2 separate regions of the Homo sapiens genome follow, and region 1 is linked to region 2. A link means that fine-mapping ties the variant in region 2 to the expression of a gene that starts in the linked region. Tissue or cell type: whole blood. Region 2 holds a variant in brackets; the other region holds the start of a gene. All regions are shown on one strand. Distances are from middle to middle.

Region 1 (8,183 bases), 84 kb after region 2:
AAAAAAGGAATGCCGTGTCTGCCAACTATGGAGTAAAGAAAAAAGGGTAAAATTCCACAGGATTCTAACTCAGTTTTGCACTTCTCAATAGAAGTCTACACATGTCACAGGGAGAAGTGACATGCTTTGAAAACCCTGGCCTACCACATGTCGTGGTGTTAGTGAACAGAATGGCACATTTCACAAGAACGCCAAGGTTTAATAGCTCAGGGCTTATAAACATGTTGCAGTTTACCATTAGTTTCCAGTGGAAGCACTGGGATTTTAATTTGCACGATGAAACTGCCCAAAATGCAGTTTCAGCCAGAGCAGAATGTATTCACATCTTTATAAATGTAACCCATTACATTACAGCAGGCACATGTGTCTTGACAGAACAATGCTTTGATGTGACTCCTGCATTTAAGAAATACATACTTTTCCCCTTTTTCTTTCAACAAAGCCATGTTCTCAGCACCCAGTTAAGTCAGGAGCACTGGAGATAGAAAAATGAGTAAGACACTGACCCTGCCCTCCAGGCACTCACAATCTAGTTAATTTTTTTTTTTTTTTGCAAGCTTGTTTTCTCTTAATTCTATATCCATTTATATATTCACTTATTAGCATTTATTTATTCTAGTACTGCTCAAACATTTTCATGCCGTAAATTATACTATTATTTCTTTTCTAAATGAGCACTTTGTTAACAATTATCTGAAAGCAACTATTTGGTGCTTAACTGTGCATGGACTGAATTAATCTAAATGCAAAATGTGTCCTAATGAACTCAAACAACCATCCTGTATTTACTGAGATCCATGACTCTGGGGCAATACTTTCACTGGGTTATAACCAACAAAATCCCCTGGGGGACAACTGCTCAATATTGCTCATTCACCTAAAAATGTTTTCACTTACTAAGCTGTGAGTTTTGTCATTTCAAAGTTCCACATACAGTATTGATAAGCTGTGTGGTTTGATTTCCACAATTAGAATAATCTGAAAAAGTAAGGTAGAACTGTGTCTGAAATCTGTTAAGGATAATGTTCAGATGTGTAATTTCCCAACTACCTCTACTGTCCTCTTCAAGTTCAGTACGGAAAAAGAATCTTGTAAGTCACATTTTACCTAAAACACACAGGATTTCTAAATGTACTGAACTACATTTCTACTGAATTCATCTGAGAGTTAACTATGGAGCGTCATGACATCAGGATCCCTACTGGAGGGGCCAGCGACCAGGGACAAGTCTAACATTGTCACTAACATGGTATGTGCCATTGGCCAAGTCACTTCACCTGTCTAGATTGATAGATGATTGCAAAATCTTATATTTTAAATAAAAAAGGAAGGAAATGGTGTCTCTTGTTTCAGTGAGAATAAAGTCAACTGTTAATTTTGTGTCTTGATGTATTTCCCCGAAGACTCAGTTTGTATAAACACTTGGATGACAGCTTTCCCTCCCTTTTAGCCTGGTGTCTCCCTGCAAGACATCTACAAAGGAGCAGTAAGCCATGTCTTCCTCTGAATTTTACTAAGGAACAATCTCCATGCCTGTTTACCCCAGATAAACAAGAGGAAAACATGAGCAAACACAACCTGTCTGGGACAGGCTTTACGTTCTTCCCAGCCTGATCCTGAATGATTAGCTGAAGTACATATTTTCTTTGCTCCTGCATCTGCCCTTTCAATAGCAGGTTTGAGCTTCTGAAGCCCCACCCCATCTTTTAACTCAGCCAAAGAACACTCCACTACAACTGACCCAACAGTGCTGGAATCTGTCAGGGAAGGGAAAGCAAATCTGCAGAAAATGCCACTGGCCAACCCTCTTCCCCAAAAGAACCCTCAGCCCAAGTTTCATTTAAACAGGCCCCCAATCCTCCCCGCCCCCAGCCCAACGCCCTAGAGTAAGGGATACAATGGGATATTATCAAACCAATTTCCTCAGTGACTGAAAACTTAGAACTGGATCTAGACAAGAAATAACAGGATAACTTAAAAACAGTCTATCGGGCGCGGTGGCTCACGCCTGTAATCCCAGCACTTTGGGAGGCCGAGGTGGGCAGATCACAAGGTCAGGAGTTCGAGACCAGCCTGGCTAACATGGTGAAACCCCGTCTCTACTAAAAATACAAAAATCAGCCGGGTGTGGTGTTGCGCGCCTGTAATCCCAGCTACTCAGGAGGCTGAGGCAGGAAAATTGCTTGAACTCAGGAGGCGGAGGTTGCAGTGAGCTGAGCTCGTGCCACTGCACCCCAGCCTGGGCGACGGAGCAAGACTTCGTCTCAAAAAAAAAAAAAAAAAAGAAAAGAAAAAGTTTATCACAACTTTAAAATGTCCATTAGGTTTTCTGGAACTTCAGTGAAGGATCATATTCATCTGTATACTTCAGAAAATGCAAAAACAAAACCTTTTAAATCTAAAATATATATTAGATTTAGGTATATTATATACATGTGCTATATATAGTATGTAAATATACATTGCATGCATATTTATATACATTTTTCAATACTGGAGAGTGACAAGAGCAGATAGAAATCTTTAACCAACGCTCGCTGGTTCTCTGTATAGTAAGAATCATAAATACCAATGGTCACCTGAAAATGGAGTAACTGGGCTTTTAGGATGTCCAGAAGGAAGAGACAGGAGACTTTGCAGGAAACAAATAAAACCTGAAAGACAGCTACACTTATTGAGCCTCTACTATATGCTATACAGTCTGCTGAGTACTTGATACACACATCAACCCAGCTAAATCTCAGAAACCCCAAGAAGCAAGTCTTCTTTTCTTCAATTTTCAGGTGATGAAACTGAGGATCAGAGAGGTTGAATGACTTGGCCAAGATCATGTAAACAGTCAATTGGAGAGCTGGCATTTGACCTAGTATAACTTACTTTGAAGCCCAAGAGTTTAATCACTGTGCTAAAAACTGTACACGGTTTATCATTCCCAAAGAAGAACTTTCACTCCATCTCCTCCCACTCAAAAAATATAAGATCTCAAAGCAAATCTAGAGACTTTTCTGATAATCTGCACATCTGGCCATTCCAAGTCTTTAAACTAAAGTTGTCTTTTATGTATGGATTAAGATGTCTGACTGTAATAAACCTCGCCCATCTGATTCCAGTCTACCTGCCTAACTACAGCTCCACCAAAGCAAATCTATTACTTCCCCAAGGTATTCAACCCTGAGCAGGTTAAAACTTCACCCTCCATACAGAAGAACTGCTTCCCAGAGACTATGCCAAATCCAGGGGCGCTTTTAGTCACTGGACATTTCAAAATACATGACAGCACAGATTTAGCAAAATAAGTCCTATTGTTTTAGCCCCAAACATATAAAACAAATATCCTGTAACTCCACAAATTGAAAAACTGCAAAAAAAAGTAGGCAAACATTTTGGCAGTTCTGAGTAAGGAAATGTTTGTTTTCCCTCTTGTGGTCACACAACAAATGGTGAAGAGATAAACATCAGTAACATCAGCCTTTTCCCTAATCCAGCACCAACCAAATATTTATTTACATCTACTTTTTGAAGGCCTCTTTCTCGCCTTTTCCACACCAACATGTCAGCAGGTGTCCCAGATTAAACTGTTGAATATCATACCCGATTGTTTAAAAAACACCTTTTGACGGGACCTGTGGCTGGTTATTTTTTAATTAGGGTTTGAAATCCTATACTGTGTGTATTTAGCCCCCTAAGAACTAGAGCCAGAGAAGGACGCCTCTGCGGAGTGGGTTGCCCAGTGGGTGGGCGAGAAGGGAGCCCCCGGTTTCAGAGGGGCTGCTGCGAACTGTACTTCCTGCGCCGCCCCCTCCCCAGGTAACTTACCAGGATACCCATCACGTCGGTCCAGAGTCGGGAGAACGCCTCGGATGTGCCAGCACCCGGCTTGGGCTCCGGTTCCGGCTCCGGCGCGGGCTCGGGCTCCGGCTCGGGCTCGGGCTCAGGCTCCGGCCCCGGGCCAGCTGCTCCCGCGTCCTCCATGGCCGTGTCCCGCGCGCGGGCCGTGCGTCCCAGTCCCCGCGGCGCCCTCGCCCCGCACCCGCGCGCAGCCTGCCCGGATGCCGGGTCCCCGCCCGCGGCGTCACCGAGCCGCGCCCCCGCGCTGCATGCCCCGGCGGCCCCGGCCACCCCGCGGGGGCCCTTCGCAGGCGCCCGCACCTCGGGTCTAGGTGGCCACGGGCTGCGCGACTGACAACTCCAGAAACTTTCCCACCCCGCTCGGCGCAGCAACAGGGTAGCAGGAGGCAAAGTCCGCACCACTGAGTTGTACGGCGGGGAATTCGCTCGGCCCAGAAGCAATTAAACCCACTGCAAAGGCGTTTCTTCCTGTGACGGGAACCAACTAACTAAGGCACGCGACTCGTTCCTTCTAGCAAGTCTTGGCAGGACCCGGCAGGGGTGGCCGCGGAGCCTCTAGATCTTGGAGGGAGCTCCCCGGGACCCCTCTCTTCAAAATGAGCTCTTCCAGCTCCACATGACTCTCTCCCTCGAGGCTAAAGAAAGCGTTTAGCAACAAAAGGTGCTCTGATGTCAGGCTCTTTGCATGGAAATGAGCCTCGGACAGGAGAACAAATCGCCTGTTGAAAGAGCAGCCGCGCCGCGGTCTCCGGCCCGCACAAGTTTCCAATCACGCTATTCACGGAAACGCTTTTGGTAACGGAAACCCGAGAAAGTTAATCTTTAAGCGACTCCCGCCCAAAGGCTTCACAAGTAGTCCGTGTCGCTACAATGCATACCTCGCCCCTCGTGAAGTCAAGCGACCCAAGGAATTACAAATCCTGCCTCTGCCAGCCAAGACTTCTCTGCAAAACAAGTGTGAAAGCTTGGGCACGAGCCATTGTTTGGATCATTTTTTATGAGTGGGGGCATTTTGGCTCCTGAATGCCCACAATGCCATGCATTGCTAGGGCTTTCGGCTAATTAAGGGAAATGCGCTTTGGGTTTTAATTATTCCTTTACATTAGGGACACAGGGAAGGGCTATTTTCGAAACTAAATTCAAATGATTGTGTAGCCAGTCAGCCTACACACACTTGGGGCCCTGTGTGTGTTTTTCCAAGGGGAAGCCCCAGGACAGATTTATTTTATAAGGGAACTAGCCCTGGAGAGGTGATTTTTCCCTTTTGTGATTCTATCTTTCAAGACTACTCAGAGTTTTCCTTGGAAGGTGACAATGCACGTCACATTCGATTTGGTGATTGATCACTTTTGAAACAGTTAAGAAACCACATGGAGTTTGCTCCTCTGTTAGGGCCTTGTGGTTTAAAAGGAAAAAAAAAAGTGAGATGCCCCAGGGAGAGAGCCCTGCTTGTTTTGAGGCCTCTCCTGTTTCTTGTTGATTGTGGGGTTTTTTTTGTTTGTTTGTTTGTTTTGTTTTGTTTTGTTTTGTTTTCCTTCTGAGTCCACTTGAAAGGGGATAAGAGCATGTCCTTGAATTCCCCTTGTTCAAGTATTAAGTGCTGTGAGCACCAATCAATGCAATGGGTGAATAGTCCTTACAGGAAAGTTCAAAATGTAAAAACATTTTCAAAAGTAACTAAATTTATAAACACAATCCCTGATAATTTTTGTGTGTTTTTGGCGGGTGCGGGGCTGGCGCCTGTAATCCCAGCACTTTGGGAGGCTGAGGCGGGCGAATCACTTGAGGCCAGGATTTTGAGAACAGCCTGGTCAACACAGCAAAACCCTGTCTCTACTAAAAATACAAAAAAAAAAAAAACAAAAAAAAAAAACAAAACATAGCAAGAGTGTTGGAACATGCCTGTAATCCCAGCTACTCAGGAGGCTGAGGCAGGAGAATAGCTTGAACCCAGGAGGCGAAGGTTACAGTGAGGTCCTGCTGCTGCACTCCAGCCTGGGTGACAGAGGAAGACTCTCTGTCTCCAAAGAAAAAAAAAGTATGCTGAAAAATTTTTTTAGAGACAAGGTCCTGCTCTCTCACCCCGGCAGTGCAGTGCTGCAATCGTAGCTCACTGCGGCCTTGAACTCCTGGGCTCAAGCAATCCTCCTGCCTCAACCACCTGAGTAGCAGGGACTACAGGCACACCGCTGCACCAGACTAATTTTTTAAATTTTTTATAGAGACATGATCTCTTGCTGTTGCCCAAGGTGGTCTCAAACTCCTGGACTCAAGGGATCCTCCCTCCTTGGTCTCCTCAAGTGCTGGGATTATAGGCATGAGCCACTGCGCACAGTCTCTGACGATAATGTTTGTGAAAGGAAACCAAAAGAATTATTAAATTTCTCCTTAATAGCATTGAGGCATTGTGTTGAAGTAGAAAGAGCACTGAACTATGAGTCAGTACAGCCAGGTCTTGTGCTTTCCTAGGCTGATGCCGGAGTTAGGCCAGATGGGTTTTCAAGGCTCCCTCGTGCTCTGTGATACTTTGAATAAAAATAAATTCAGTTAAGGCTGATGAGGTTTTTTTAATTGTCATTTCTATAAATAGATAAATATAAGTAAATGATAGGAAAAGATAAATAGCCTTTACAGTTGACTGTATTGGTATATTTAAGAATTTGAATTTATTCACCACGTGATACTTTTTTTTTTTTTTTTGAGACAGAGTCTTGCTCTGTCACCCTGTCGCCCAGGCTGGAGTGCAGTGGCACCATCTTGGTTCACTGCAACCTCTGCCTCCCAGGTTCAAGCGATTCTCCTGCATCAGCCTCCTGAGTAGCTGGGATTACAGGCATGCACCACCACGCCTGGCTAATTTTTGTATTTTTAGTAGAGACGGGGTTTCACCATATTGGTCAGGCTGGTCTCGAACTCCTGACCTCATGATCCACCCGCCTCAGCCTCCCAAAGTGCTGGGATTACAGGCATGAGCCACCGTGCCTGGCCTGGTACTTTCTTAAATTTAAGAAGATGCAGAGGACTGTGCTGCTTCCAAGGGGCAGCCTGTTCTCTACATAAACACTTTCCAGCAAATAACTCAGCAAGGAGCCAGGCAAGCCGGGCAGTTGGGGCTGGGGTTAGGATGAAGCCTGACTCTCCAGCACCAATCCAGAATCATTTTCTTCTTGACTCATCAGATGACCTGGGGCAAAGCATTTGACCTGGTGCTAGTTTCCCCATCCAAGATGAGGCAAGGCCATACTAATGGCCACCTGCTTCTTCACAGGTTATAGTATGTTTCAGGGTCATCTAAAGACACGTACAGTTTAGTGACAACACATACCCGCATCAGTGTAATTAAACGGGCCGGGCATGGTGGCTCATGCCTGTAATCTCAGCACTTTGGGAGACTGAGGCAGGCACATCACTTGAGGCCAGGAGTTCGAGACCAGCCTGGCCAACATGACAAAACCCCATCTCTACTAAAAATATAAAACTTAGCCAGGCATGGTGGCACACACCTGTAGTCCCAGCTACTTGGGAGGCTGAGACAGGAGAATCGCTTAAACCTGGGAAGTGGAGGTTGCAGTGAGCCACTGCACTCAGCCTGGACGACAGAGCGAGACTCCATCTCAAAAAATACATCTATATAGATATTTATATAGATATCTATATTTATAATTATATATCTATATATATACACACACATATAATTAAACCTTAGCCAGCATTTTGGCACTTATAGAAATCAACCTATTCTAGATATTTAAGCTGTTTTTCCTGGTGCTTCTTAATCAATGGATAGGGAAATGAGATAATGTTTTGGGAGAAATGTTGATGCCTATACATAGAATGTGAAATTTGAGGCCAGGCATGGTTACTCATTCCTGTAATCCCAGCACTTTGGGAGGCCGAGGCAGAAGGATCATCTGAGGTCAGCAGTTTGAGACCATCCTGGCCAACATGGTGAAACCTCGTCTCTACTAGAAATACAAAAATTAGCTGGGCATGGCAGCATGTGGCCTGTAGTCCCAGCTACTTTCTACTTATCAATTTCCATGTGTTAACTCAACATGATCTGATTACCACTCCCAAGATTGACGACTCTTTTCTCTCTTAGTTAATGTCACTTGTCACTCCTTTCTTCTAAAATTTCCTTCAGGGGCTTTTTATCTCTCTCTCTCTTTTTTTTTTTTTTTTTTTTAAAGACAGAGTCTCGCTCATTGCCCAGGCTGGAGTGCAGTGGCCCGATTTCGGCTCACTGCAATCTCCCCCTCCTGGGTTCAAGCAATTCTCCTGCCTCATCCTCCCAAGTAGCTGGGACTACAGGAGCCTGCCACCACGCCCGGCTA
Region 2 (8,183 bases):
ATAATCCAGCACTTTGGGAGGTTGAGGTGGGTGGATCATCTGAGGTCATGAGTTTGAGACCAGCCTGGCCAACATGGTGAAACCCTATCTCTTCTAAAAATACAATAATTAGCCGGGCGTGGAGGCCGGCATCTGTAGTCCCAGCCACTAGGGAGGCTAAGGCAGGAGAATGGCTTGAACCCGGGAGGAGGAGGTTGCAGTGAGCCGAGATCGTGCCACTGCACCCCAGCCTGGGCGACAGAGTGACTCCGTCTCAAAAAAAAAAAAAATCTATTGTCTTAGGAGTCTTCTCACTCCCCACTAAATCAGCTGCCCAAAGCTACTGCTTTTCTCTTCCCAAGGTTTCTGGCATCCATCCAGTGAATCCATTCCACTTGTAGTCCTTCGCCTCACAGCTACCTGGGCTACCAGCATACGGCTGCATGGAAAGTACTGTCAGCTGGGAGACTGGAGTCCAGTTCTGCTCCCTGCTGTAGTGTAACCTTTAGAACCTGTTTTGTTTGGTTTGGTTTTTCCAATGGCAACAAACGGCAAATGGACCACTTGATAATCTTTAGGGTCCTTTTTTACTCTAAAAGGGCTATAAGTGGTGTCATGCCCCTCTAATCACTATTGTCAACTCCATCTTCTGGAAATAGTACTCTGTGTCTCTGCTATTCAAAATGTGATTTGTGGACCATCTGCATCAGCATCACCTGGGAACCTGCTATACATCCAGTCATGGTCCCATCCCAGACCTCCTGAATCAAAATCTGCAATTTGCCAAAATTCCCCAGTGATGTGTATTGTTTGAGAAACTCACTGCTTCTGTGTCACTTCTCTCTTCCAAAATCTTTCCTGGAGGCAGGGTGCAGTGGCTCAAGCCTGTAATCCTAACACTCTGGGAGGCCAAGGCGGGTGGATCGCTTGAGGTCAGGAGTTTGAGACCAGCCTGGCCAACAGGGTGAAACCTCATCTCCACTAAAAATACAAATATTAGCCAGGCATGGTGGCATGCGCCTATAATCCCAGCTACTTGGGAGGCCAAGGCAGGAGAATCGCTTGAACCCAGGAGGCGAAGGCTGCAGCAAGCTGAGATGGCGCCACTGCACTCCAGCCTGGGTGACAGAGCGAGACTCTGACTAAAACAAAACGAAATCCACAAAATCTTTCATGGAAACACAATACTGACAGGATGAAGTCCACGTTTCAGAAGAAGAAGCCCCCTTCACCAAATAGCCTGATCATAAACCCTCTTAGTGAACAGTTACCATGTCCTCTGCTCCCTGAGTGCAGACTGAGCCTGGTGTCTCACTTCTGCTTATGCTACCTAGAGTGCTTCTCCTTTCTATCCATCCAAATCCTACTCATCCTTTAGCTCCAATCCCAATACGCTCTCCTATTTAACCTTCTCTGCCCACTTGGGCCTTAAATGATATCCCTGAGTATGGGCACACCAATGACTAGCCACATCACTTATTCATTAAATGTACCTATGGGTAGCGACTCTTCTACTCACTTACTGGTTTTCCTCAACTAGACTGTAAATGGCCTTCCAATAAATTCCTGTTGAAATTCATTGTATGCCACCACAATCCATCAAAATCTATTTACTTAGCATTTACTATCTGCCAGGACATCCCCTTGAGAATGTTACTTTCTACAGCCTTGCACAGGCTCCCTGTACAAGGGAGTACTACTGGGAATCTATTGATTTTTTTGTTTGTTTGTTTGTTTTTGTTTTTTTTTAAAGAGATGGGATCTTGCTCTGTCGCCCAGGCTGGAGTACCGTGGTGTGACCATAGCTCGCTACAGCCTTGACCTCCTAAACTCAAGTGATCCTCCCGCCTGAGGCTCCCAAGCAGCTGGGGCTGTGGGTATACACCACCATGCCTAATTTATTTTTTTTAGAGATGGAGTCTTGCTATGTTGGCCAGGCTGGTCTCAAACTCCTGGCCTCAAGCAAACCTCCCACCTCAGCCTCCCAAAATGATGGGATTAGAAGTGTGAACAACTGTCCTAGGCCTGGTTTGTTTAAATTGGATCACTTTGCCAATAAGCCTGACTCTTTTTTCCTTCCTCTTTTTTTTTTTTTTTTTTTTTTTTTTTAAGAGACAGGGTCTTGCTCTGTCACCCAGGCCTAGGTTGGAGTGCAGTCATAGTCCACTGCAGCCTTGACCTCCCAGGCTCAAGCAATCCTCCTGCCTCAGCCTCCTGGATAGCTGGGACTACAGGTATGTGCTACCATGCCCAGCTTCCTTCCTTTAATTTGTGTTTGCAATTTTACTGCATGGGATGTGTATTTTCATGTTTTTATTTAAGATTTACTTTTGGATTGCAGAGTTACACTAGGAAGCAAAAATAATTCAACAAATATTTAAGATCTACAACCTAGATACATAAGAACTTAAAACAGAATGTTGTAATGTTTAATCACTTTTAGGTAAAAATCAGTAGTGGCCTGTCAGTTTCTTCATCCATACCTAACTCTTCAGCTTTTCATGTCTCATTTCACCCGTATTGCTCGAGGTATAGCAGAAGATGTTAGTCATTGTTCTGGACCCCCATAAGCTCTTGGCCTGGTATAAGAAATTTTCTTCCGAGTGAAACTGAAGGAAAAGTACTCTCATCCCATCATATCAAAGAAGAAAGGTTCTAAGGGGGAAATTTTTATTTCACAGCTGAAGAATTCTATTCCACTAACTGCAACCTTTAAGTCTCACCATAATTAAGGGATCAGTGAATTTCTGCAAGCTTTCATAAGAAAGAAACCTGAAGTGGCAATTTCCACCCAGCCATTAGTGCTCTCTGTTAAAATAATTGAGCCTTTTGCTGTATTAGTTTATATTCTCTTTTTTTTTTTTTGAGATAAAGTTTCACTCTTGTGGCTCTGGCTGGAGTGCAGTGGCGCCATCTCAGCTCACTGCAACCTCCGCCTCTCAGGTTCAAGCAATTCTCCTCCCTCAGCCTCCCGAGTAGCTGGGATTACAGATGTGTACCACCACACCTAGCTAATTTTTGTATTTTTAGTAGAGATGGTTTCACCATGTTGGCCAGGCTGTCGCGAACTCTTAACCTCAAGTTAAGATCCGCCTGCCTTGGCCTCCCAAAGTGCTGGGATTACAGGCATGAGCCACCGCACCCGGCCTGATAGTTTATATTCTGCAGTTATTAGTTACTTATTTATTTAGGCCTCACCACGTTCCAGAAAATGACTTAAGATGGCTAAGTAACTTAGTTCAGTGTTACATGATAAAAGTAAAAAGCTAAAGAGCTAATTAATTTATATGACACAAATAGCAGAGGGAACAAGACTACAAAGTAGAGTAGGCCCAGGGATTCAGTTAGTTCATAAAAGGTGAGCCATGGGATGCTACAGTACAGACAGACAACATGATCAGTTACGAGATGGATGTTACTATACTTTTATGTCTTAAGGTAGCCATAGGAAAATGGCTCTTTCTCTGAGTAAAAATTTCTCCTCTGGCTTCTGGCAGAGATAACACACTATTACTCTGAAAGATACCACATGGAAAATTCCTGAAGAAGTCACCTTGCTCTGGAAATGCTTTCACATTGGGCAAAGCTGAAATTAGGTCTGAGATCCCCGAATGAAAGCGGAGGAGCATACCAAGGGGGCCTCCCTGAGGTCCACACTCCCGTACCCATTCAGAGGAGACAAGAAGTACCCAGGGCAGGAACAGAAATCAGTCTGGGAAGACAGGAGGGTAAGTTCCACCATCTTGAAGCATGGCTGTGCTAAAATACATCAGAGTTGAATTGGTTAAATTCAGGAGTAATTTGAATCTAAGAGGGTCAAGCTTGGTGCTCCCACACCTCATGTCAAACAAGGCGTATACTGCTTTAATGTCTAAACTGTCTTTGTTTAAAACTATGTACTAGATCGTTTAAGCTACAACTTTACCAATGTTGAGTGCATACCACATACCAAGCATTTTGCATGGAGATAAGAATAAGATCTACACACCACAATGTGGCAATGGATCACTTCAATAAGATGTGAGTGTTGTGTTAGAAGAATGCACCTTTTACAGTGTACAAAACACCAGAGTGTCATGTTATATAAATGTAATCATTAAAAGACACAGTGTCCATGAAGACATTTTAGTTATCCTAAAAAACAAATCCAACAAGTTCTATAATTCAATTTTTCATTCTACTAGCAGGACTTGGCATATCCACACTATAATCCACCCCCTGGGTGAATTTCCCAGGGGTAAAGACCATGATATCTGGCCATTCTAGATGGTAGTGGCTATCCCCAGAATCCTCTCACCCTCCCTGTTCTCATCCCATGCTCACTAAGTGATCTCCTTTGCTTTTTTGAGACAGAGTCTCACTCTGTTGCCCAAGCTGGAGTGCAGTGTGCAGTGGCACAATCTCAGCTCACTGCAACCTCTGCCTCCTGGGTTCAAGTGATTCCCCTGCCTCAGCCACCCGAGTAGCTGAGATTATAGGCACGCACCACCCACACTGAGCATGTATATATATATTGTATTTTTAATAGAGATGGGGTTTTGCCATGCTGACCAGGCTGGTCTCAAACTCCTGGTCTCAAGTGACCAGCCGCCTCAGCCTCCCAAAGTGCTGGGATTACCCGTGTGAGCCACCGTGCCCGACCACTAAGTGATCTTCTGAGTACATCCAGTTGCTCACTGGGATTGACTAACATAAGACAAAAGTGACAGGAAGCACTACATAAGCTCATTTCCTTTTGCTTTCTCTGTTTTTTTCCATCTCCTCTTTCATCTAATCATTCCATCATTTTAAAAATAGTTACTGAGCCCATAAGTCAACGAGGATAAAACAGTGAAACAGACACGCACCACTTCAGTGGGGTTTCCATCTAGTGAATTCTTAAGTCACTCACTTTGCATTTCAACTCTAAGCCACAGGTACAACACTCCTTCTGTTCGGGCACCAGGCACATGACATCTGGGTAACTCTGCTCAGCTCTGGATGCCACATTTCCCGGGGACAATGGAAACCAGAGCACCTTCACTAGAA[T/C]GGTGTCTGGAAATGGTATCAAATACTCAGGATCAATTGGAGGAAGCAGGGCTGTTTACACAGAGAAGGGAAGAAAAATATAAACATGGGAAAGCCTTCCAGGGAGCAGGGAACTGCCCAGTGCAGAGCTGTCCGACCCCTTTCCCCACAGCGGTCCCCTGACAATGAGAGCGCACTGCACACTAGGAGAAACTGAGAAAATTTTAAATGGAAAAAAAAGTATTATTATTTTTATTTATTTATTTATTTATTTTGAGATGGAGTTTCACTGTTGTTGCCCAGGCTAAAAGAGTGCAGTGGCACGATCTCGGCTCACTGCAGCCTCCGCCTCCCAGGTTCAAGCCATTCTGCTGCCTCAGCCTCCCCAGTAGCTGGGATTACAGGCGTGTGCCACCACACCCAGCTAACTTTTGTATTTTTAATAGAGACCAGGTTTCACCATGTTGGCCAGGCTAGTCTCGAACTCCTGACCTCAGGTGATCTGCCCGCCTTGGCATCTCAAAGTGCTGGGATTACAGGTATGCGCCACCACGCCTGGCCAGAAGTATTCTTTTAAAGTAATACCTAATGACCATTGAGAAAATAAAATCAGGCCAGACACAGTGGCTCACGGAGGCTGAGGCAGGAGAATCACTTGACCCTAGGAGGCAGAGGTTGCCGTGAGCCAAGATTGTGCCATTGCATTCCAGCCTGGGGGACACAGGGGGACAGGGAAAAAAAAAAAGGAGGAGGGGGAGGGGAAGGGAGAGGGGGATGGGAGGGGAGAAGGGGAGGGGAGGGGAGGGGAAAGAGAAAAAATCAGAGTATTAGTGAAGATATTAAATATCGAATTGACATAATACTTTTAAATAAAATATTTTCCAATTTTTTCAAGAATGTTGAGCTTACTTCTTTGAAAATAATTGTCTTTGAAATAACTGTCTATATGCTTGAAAGAACTATATGCCATTCCAGATCAAGATGTTTAATGATGATCTCTTGATGTTCTTGTTGGTTATTAGTAACAAGAAGTTTTACTCAAACTAAGAGGTAAAAATTGTTTTAACCTTTTTTACAACCATTTTAAATTTATTAAGCATTTTACAGCCAACAGAAATACGGCAATTTCTATTTCAAGAATGTAAAAGCACCTTATTTCATTAACAGACACAGTGAAATCTCTTATGAAAACATAACAGATTTTAAATCTAGTTTAATTTTTCAATTAGGTACTACAATATACTGACAAAGTTCTTGCGTGCAGCCTTGTGCATGCAGTGTTCATCCTGAAGCTAGCTTGGCCGTGCTGGTCCAGAGCTGCCTCCCACCACATCTGACCACTGCACCTTGGACTCCATGCCTGAAGCTTCAATTCATCTCTTCCATGAGCTTCAGGGACCCTTGACCATGATGACCAAGTATGCCGCTGAAGTACACATCACCCATCCTGTGTACTGCTCATGGGAATCACTTACACCGCTCTGCCCTGGGACCATGTTCCAATAAGCCCTGTCAGCGGTTCTCAAACTTAGTGCCTTGCAATCCCTGGAGGGCTTCTTAAACACAGATTGCTGGGTCCTACCCAAGAGTTTCATCTGCATTTTTACCAAGTTCCCAGGTGACACTGATGCTACAGGCTGAGGAGCCACACTTTGAGAACTACTGGTCCAAAGAAGGCTGCTCAGAGCTGCTTCTAGTCAGATTCAGTGGCCTGCAGGTGAAGGGGTAGGTGTATCTGGAGCCCCACCTGAAGTCTGGCCTGGTTTTCAGTGCTCTAAAAGGGATGATCAAGACTAAGGATTTTAAAGTTAAGAGGAGGCTGGACTCAGTGGCTCACACCAGTAAACCCAGTGCTTTGGGAGGCCCAGGCAGGAAGATCCTTAGAGGCCAGGAGTTAGAGGTTACAGTGAGTTATGATTGCACCACGGCACTCCAGCCTGGGCAAACAGAACAAGCCCCATCTGGCCGGATATGGTGGCTCACGCCTGTAACCCCAGAACTTTGGGAGGCCAAGGTGGGCGGACAACTTGAGGTCAGGAGTTTGAGACCAGCATGCCAACATGGTGAAACCCCGTCTCTACTAAAGATATAAAAATTGATCAGGCATGGTAGCACATGCCTGTAATACTAAGTACTTGGGAGGCTGAGGCAGGAGAATCACTTGAACCCACAGTAAGCTGAGATTGCGCCACCGCACTCCAGCCTGGGTGACAGAGCGAGACCCTGTCCCACCTCCCCCCCCCAAAAAAAAAAAAGAAGAAGAACAAGACACCGTCTCTAAAAGAAAAAAAATTTTTTAAAAGACAAAGATGGACTCACCATCATTTTATTAAAAAGGATGGGGGAGGAGGGCAAGCAGAGCCAGGTGTCCAACAATAGAATAAATTACTTACAACATGTGGAAACCACATCAATGGAGCATTCAAGCTTGACTGCAGGACTGTCTGCTGTCTGGGATGGGGATTTTTTTTTTTTTTCTTCAGAAACTGGTCAGACCTCTGACCGACTACTATAATTCCACTACTTGATTGGAGTGTAATCATTGGAAATGAAATTAAGTTATTGTGGTATAATTTATCGTTTACATGAGTTTTTTTTAATGGGAGAAGGAACTGCAAGTTCTAGCCCAATCACTCAAACATTTGAAACAGACGACCTTCCAAAGTTGGCAACAGCCTACAACTGAACAAACATTTATGTCTTCATCTATTCAACGAGTGTTTCCTGACCAGTTTGTACTCAGTTGACGTGCTGGGTACTGGCAGTATAAAAAAACAGTCACTGACCTTCAAGAGCTCGCAGTTAAGCAAGAGAAACAGTAACTGAGAATATAAAAAATTAAAGGCTTTCATGTTATCATATAAATAACGTCGGAACTGATTAGTATGCAGATTGGGTGACTGAATAAGGGATTTACAAAATTATGCAGCCTGATCAAACAGGAGGTGCTAAATTTGAATGGTTCCTCTAATAGATCAGCTCACATTTTGTACTAATGAAGTGTCACTATTATTGTTGTCTTTGCTATTGTAAAATCATGTGGTGCTATCATGACATTTAACCACTTTCTCATTCTCTGAACCATATTTTCTAACCATCTTTAAATATTGTGTAACCATCTTTAAAAAGCTCCAGAATCAATTGCAAGCCAATACATTCTGAAATCATCAGCCACAAATTTGCTTTTAAAATAAATA

The links. PIP is the estimated chance that this variant, and not a neighbour inherited with it, causes the effect.
Region 1: SASH1 starts here. The variant in region 2 is fine-mapped to the expression of SASH1 in whole blood (INTERVAL, PIP above 0.99).

The regions. Positions count from the first base shown.
Region 1 is chr6:148,338,857-148,347,039 of GRCh38, reverse strand. It overlaps SASH1 (SAM and SH3 domain containing 1), which reads right to left and starts at 4,202. Exons shown (of 20, transcript NM_015278.5): 1 at 3,817-4,202. The coding sequence starts at 3,972. RefSeq lists enhancers at 1-127, 4,976-5,555.
Region 2 is chr6:148,423,291-148,431,473 of GRCh38, reverse strand. The region is part of intron 2 of SASH1 (SAM and SH3 domain containing 1); the gene reads right to left. Among named protein-coding and RNA genes, the nearest start is that of SASH1, 85 kb to the right of the region's middle. The variant T/C (reference allele first, on the strand shown) is at 5,008.